Linked DNA regions of Homo sapiens: region 1 is reported to be linked to region 2. Evidence: microRNA targets listed by miRTarBase, many of them from high-throughput screens and not tested one by one. Region 2 holds a microRNA gene; the other region holds the end of a gene's coding sequence.

What was found. The annotated mature microRNA hsa-miR-4666a-5p reads AUACAUGUCAGAUUGUAUGCC and lies in region 2 at 2,290-2,310, opposite strand. An mRNA with a match to its seed (bases 2 to 7 or 8) in the 3' UTR can be bound and repressed. Matches are read on the target gene's strand: a 7mer-m8 pairs with bases 2 to 8, a 7mer-A1 pairs with bases 2 to 7 and ends in A, and an 8mer does both.
Region 1: miRTarBase lists LANCL1 as a target of hsa-miR-4666a-5p. Seed matches in the 3' UTR shown: 7mer-A1 at 2,809-2,815.

Annotation. Positions count from the first base shown.
Region 1 is chr2:210,431,678-210,434,677 of GRCh38, reverse strand. LANCL1 (LanC like glutathione S-transferase 1) reads left to right here. Exons shown (of 10, transcript NM_006055.3): 10 at 115-3,000. The coding sequence ends at 191. The region is part of intron 2 of LANCL1-AS1 (LANCL1 antisense RNA 1); the gene reads right to left. Among named protein-coding and RNA genes, the nearest start is that of LANCL1, 44 kb to the left of the region's middle.
Region 2 is chr1:228,460,855-228,464,392 of GRCh38, reverse strand. MIR4666A (microRNA 4666a) reads right to left here and starts at 2,319; the gene lies at 2,241-2,319. It also overlaps the pseudogene H2BC27P.

The DNA.
Region 1 (3,000 bases), not on the chromosome of region 2:
AATAGACTGAAATGCTGTGACTTTTTTTGTCAATAAAGATATGGGGGAAAAAGAACCATCCTATGAAATGGAGTCATTTGGTATAATAACTTTTGCCTCTTTCTCTTTCTTCAGGAATGGCTGGAACAATATATTTCCTGGCTGACCTGCTAGTCCCCACAAAAGCCAGGTTCCCTGCATTTGAACTCTGAAAGGATAGCATGCCACCTGCAACTCACTGCATGACCCTTTCTGTATATTCAAACCCAAGCTAAGTGCTTCCGTTGCTTTCCAAGGAAACAAAGAGTCAAACTGTGGACTTGATTTTGTTAGCTTTTTTCAGAATTTATCTTTCATTCAGTTCCCTTCCATTATCATTTACTTTTACTTAGAAGTATCCAAGGAAGTCTTTTAACTTTAATTTCCATTTCTTCCTAAAGGGAGAGTGAGTGATATGTACAGTGTTTTGAGATTGTATACATATATTCCAGAACTTGGAGGAAATCTTATTTAAGTTTATGAATATAACCATCTGTTACTGTTCTAAAAATGTTTAAAAGAAACTCAATACAGATAAAGATAAATATGTGACTATTATTGGGTATTACACTTCACTTCTCTTTAATATTTTTCCTCCAACTGGAGGGCAGACAATTTTCTGACTTGCTTTTCTCTAGGTGGTTCATTTTGAAAGGGGACAGAAATATAACTAAATGCTTCCAGGAGAAAAATTCCAAGAGTTACAATCTGGACTTGGTACCTAAATATCATTTTTTAAATTCTTGATGCCTATTTGGACTAGAGGTAAACATACTTTCAGATTGGCCTGTTTTTGTCGGTAAGGCATACAGCCTTCAGAAGCCAACATTTTTAATCAAAAACTTATAAAACATGATGATCATTGTGAAAATTCTGAGTTGAAGGTTAGTTTAAGATAAGCTAACAATAACAGTCTGTGTTTTCTCTAAAATAATCTGAGTTTTTTGGAACTCTTTATTTAAATATGTGTGTTTTTCAGTATTCAAATAAGATCAGGAAGCCAATTTTCTATGTATGAATATGCTTTAACCTAGGATTTCAGTCCACTCTGACTGACTTTCTAAACTTTAACTTGGGTTTTTACAGTGACTATGCATTAGTGCTGACTCTTTGGTATAAGCCATAAAATATTTTCCTTCCTATCAATTTATCTGAACTTTGGTCTTTTCACTAAATTGTACAGTATTCTACTTCTGTTTAAAAAGGGGAGATGAGAAAGGGAATACTATCTAACCAATAACTTGAACAAAAACACTAAACTAAGCATTTAATAGAAATGCTTTTTATTGAGGAGGTATTATCCAGAGTTCATGCTTAGAACAAATGCATCTTTGCGTATCCTAGACTTAACAATTCATCAGTTTCTGAGACCACAGAATCAGGTTTTCCGTAGTAGATAAAGACTCTCTGGTGCTTCAAATTCTGTTCAAGTGTTTTGACTCATCAGCTTCTACTCTTTCTATTACTGCCTTTGCCTGGCTTGTTTTGTCTCTTTGCAACTGATTTTGCAAAAAAAAATTGTAGCTTTAAAATAACAGGGTCTAAGTATTTTAAATGTGCCTATTTCACAGCTCTCTTGGTCACAAAAACATGCTATTTTTATTGGAACTTCAAACCAAATCCCCACTGAGTGTGTACTGGTTCCTGCAGGTAGCAGTCTCCTATTATCTCCTGTTTAGCACCAAAAGAGCTAATATTATTGGAAACTGACCTTTTAAAGGCCACTGGCAGTAGGATTTAAAAAGCAGCCCACTGCTCAGTTTCCAGGATCAGCTTCCTCCTTCTGTCACTTGTGTAAGTTGGCACTACCTTGTGCCTCTCAGATTGCTGAAGTGCTGCTGGTAAGCATGTGCATGCTCTGCCTTTCTTGTGAAAGTTTTCAATCAGCGATATCAGCACTTACAGTAAGAAGTAAAAGTAGTGCACAGCAAAGCTAATTTGCCTTTGCCTGGGGTGTTCAGCTTGAAAGAATAAAGCTCATTTGGTTTAGTTAAATGTCTTACTCTACTGTGCCTATGCTTTTAGCTGCGTTACTAAGCAAGGGAAAAATAACAGTTTCTCTGAGCCAGAGAAGACTTGATCACAGTTCTCCAAGCATCGTGATAGCAATGCTTAACCCCAGGAAGATTTCAAGGCAGGGAGAAGAACATTTCAAATAAGATTCTTGTTAACCCATTTATGCCTAGTGTTCCATTATTGGAATGCTAAGCTTGTGGGAGTCATTTACATCCTACTGCTCAAAGTCATTGCCAAGGTCTGATTTTTCACACAAAAAATTGCAACCCCCAGCATAAATGGGTTAGCTACTGTCATCAGTTAGCAAATTCATCCACACAAACACAATTAGAGTTTGGTTTTTTTTTAAGCTTTTCAAAACTTACTAAACTGGCACAATTTTATATGTATGCTATTTGTTGTATTTATGCTTAAGAGCAAAAAAGTTTTGATGGGATTTTAAATTCAGGCAAAGCCTACAACGCTGAGACAATCCCCTAACAACATGGTAGTAACTAAAGAAACTTTTATACTAGGCTTCTTAGTTTTAAAAGGAAGTGGCATCATTGTTTCAGTTCTAGTTTGTATTTTTCTCTCAGATATTTTTCTTCTTTAAAAATCTTTCCCAGAAGTTGGTTCCTAGAAAACTCAATACCATCATCTCTTATCTCTATACAGGGACTAGGTAATAAAACCTTCAAAGGTTGTCAAAGGTCATCAAGCAGTGTTCATTTATCCTGTCACATGTTTCTGTTTCTATAGTAATTTAGAAATTGCAAATAGTTAACTTTTCATCATGTAAAAAGTTAACATTATCCTATTTCCATAGATACCATGGACGGCGGTGTGGCCTGAGTTGTCAGTCTTTAATCCTGAGTCATGTGGCTCTCTTTTCATCTTTGATGTCAGTTCCAATTATTTGGCATCAAAAACCTTCATGGTAGGTAGAGTTTTAGGTAAAAGTGGATCTAGGGTTACTTTCTTTAT
Region 2 (3,538 bases):
ATGACATCTTCGAGCGCATCGCCAGCGAGGCCTCCCGCCTGGCGCACTACAAACAAGCGCTCCACCATCACGTCCCGCGAAGTGCAGACGGCCGTGCGCCTGCTGCTGCCCGGCGAGCTGGCCAAGCACGCCGTGTCCGAGGGCACTAAGGCTGTCACCAAGTACACCAGCTCCAAGTGAGGTGCGTCCCGGCGCCCCGAACCCAAAGGCTCTTTTCAGAGCCACCTCCAAGCTCCAAAAGGAGCGTGCCACCTGGTCTGGTTGTGACCTGTGATTCAATTGGAGTAATGAGGGAAAGTAGACTGAGCCGTGGGGGCGCAAGTCTTAGAGACAAAATTAGGCTTCTTGTTTGTAACGGCATATTTCCCTTAGAAAGGCTGCGTTCGTCTTGTGTTGGCCACAGGCAAAGTCAGAGAGGGGGCAGTACAGGCGATTGCGCCATGGATCCCATCCAAAGATCTGTGTGTGGCTTACGCCCTGCGCGCGAGGAGCGTGGGTCACCTCCGGGAAGATCTTGTGCCACGTCCCCGCCCCCAGTGCCTCCTGGCGGCTGAGACTGGAGGACGTGCTCACTGAGGTCCGGGGTTGGAGGTGAGGGGGTTATCGCGCCGTCTGGGCGGAGGCGCTTGGGTCCGTTCTTCTCCCGCCCCTTTCCTCCCTCCTTAGCCACAACTAGACACTGTGAGCTTCTAGCCAAAACCATTTCAGCAGCGTTGCGCCTAAGCAGCTCTTTATGCCACGCCTTCCTGCTTGAAACATCAAAACAGCAGGCTCACAGATCTCCTTATCACTCAGCTAAAATTTCCCCAATTAAGGGATTCTCGTATTTTACCCCCAAAATGTGTGTGTGTGTGTGTGTACGCATATTACACAGTGAAAGATTATTTTGAATAATGCAAATATAGTGCTTTTTAAAAAAAACTCCAGCAAATCATAGGAAAAATAAGTATGATCTCTGGATGACACATTAAAAACTAAGGCATGCAGGCCTGACTGGGGCCCAGGCTGTCCTCCCCCTAAAAATACCCCATACCGGTGACACCCCAACCACGAATACCTGAGAGCTACCCACCCTCTAAGCAAAAACGTTGCCTGGAATTAGAATTCGGTTTCCAGGCTCAGTTCCCACTGGTAGAAGATGCACTCTACCCAGGCTCAGTTCCCACTGCACACTCCCAACACAATGACAGCCACGCATTTATCAACATTTAACCTCTCTGGCCTCATAAAGTAAATCCATTTTCTTGGGTTAGTTTCTTCTTAAAGGGAGTTTTCTTTCCTCCAAATTCTTTTTGTAAATAGGCTTTATTTTTTAGAGCACTTTTTCAGAGCAATATGCTTTTTTATTAGTAGTACGTAATAGTTGTACATATTTGGGGGGTACAAATATTTTGATATACGCATAGGCTTAACAATCAAACCAGGGCAACTGGGACATCCGTCATCATATTCACACCCTCTTTAGGTCGAGATCATTCCAATTCCTCTCCTCCAGCAATACAACTAATTATTGTTAACTACAGTCACCCTACTTTTCTAACCAATACTAGATGTTACCATTTCTTCTAAGCATATTTTTGTACCCATTAATCAACTTCATCTCCTCCTTTCCCCACCACTCTTCCCAGCTTCTGGTAACCAGCAATCAACTTTCTACCTCCATGAGATGCATGTTCTTAGCTCCCACGTATGAGTGAGATCATGCAGTATTTGTCTTTCTGTGCCTGATTTGTTTTACTTAACATAATGTCCTCCAGTTCCATCCATGTTGCTGATGACGGGATTTCATTTTTTTTAATGGCCAAATAGTATTCGAATGTGTAAATGTACCACATATTCTTTATCCATATATCTACTGATGGGCACTAAGGTTGACTTTCTATCTTGGCTATTATAAATAGTGCTGCAATGAACATGAGACCGCAGACATCTCTTTGATATACTGATTTCCTTTCTTTTGGATATATACCCAGCAATGGGGTTGCTGGATCATATGGTAAGTCTGTTTTTAGTTTTTTAAAGAATGCCCATATTTGTCTCTATAGTGGCTGTACTGATTTACATTCTTACCAGCAGTGTACAAGCATCCCCTTTCCCTGCGTTCTCACCAACATTTGTTATTTTTTGTTTTTTAATCAAAGTTGGTTTAATTGGAGATGATTCCTTCCAAATTATTTTATTTACTGCATAATAATTAGCAAATCTGACTTGAAATTTCCATCTGAGATGGGTGAGGGGCAATCTCTTAAATACATGTCAGATTGTATGCCAGTCTGGAGGGATTTTGTAGGCATACAATCTGACATGTATTTAAGTGATTGTCACTCACCCATCTCAGATAGGTGAGATGAAGCTTAGTTTAAAAATTTGGCTTAGTTTAAGAATCTTGGCATGTCTCTCCAACCCAGAAAATGCTTCCATTTTGTTGAGTGAGTCCTAATTCCCTTAGTCTCTGTGGATTCTCACATATTTGATGTGCACTGCCTTCATTTATCATTAACATTTGTCTTTCTCTGTTGTAACACTATAATTAGAGAAATGGGTTCTGGACACGATTGCTCTGAATTTTCTCCATTATAAAATCTTAGTAGCAAGGATCCTGTTTTACCTTCTTTGCCTCTCCCTTAACAGATCCCTGTCCTAGGAGAGACGGACAAATCCCATTCATTCTGGGCCTGGGGGTGCTAATGTAGCAGGAAAAGACAGCCTGTTTCTACTTCAAGTTTGTGCCAGGGGAATCAGAAGGACTGAGACATGAATTGACTGACGTTTGACATTATCCATCACAAAATGCCTTCTTAGAGAATTACACTTGGAAAATGTCATGAAATGTTCATCTTGTGCCTTGATTTGATCTCTGGCACTAACCAGTGTTGTTGCCTTGTGCTAACACAATCATTCACTCTCTCTACTGGAGACTGGTTTCACTTTATTAAACCTATGTTTTAAGTTCATTAAGGTGGAGAACTATATGGGTCTGTGAGAGTAGTTTCACAGCTGCAAATGTTTAAGGTATTGACTTCCAATCCATGCTGGTAGGAGGCCGAGGGCTTGGATGTTCCAGTCATTGGGCACCTGTTTCATAGTGGAGAGGACTGGATTCAACAGCTTTTCATACAAATCCTATATTTCTTGACAGTACTAAGGGTGTTGACAAGTCCCACTTACTTTTGATGATGGATCACTGTTTAATATTTGGATTATAACTAGGGATGCAAAGAATTGAATAAAGTGCCTATGACAAAATTGTCATTCCTGTGTATTTTTTGTAAATTTTTTTTGGAGCATATATCAAAACAAAACAGAATGGAAATGACCCCGTGCACTGCTAGCATTGTAACCATATGGAAATGATCCCATGCTGTGCTAACACTGTAACAATATGAACACTGCATGTGTGCAGTCATTGAGGTGGAAAGGAGAGGAGAGAAGAGAGTGGGTGCACCATCCAGCTCATTAAGAGTCAGTTTCACTAAAAGTTTATCTGTTTGATAACATCAAATTATTTATGTTTTGAACAATTGTGTACTGTCGAGAT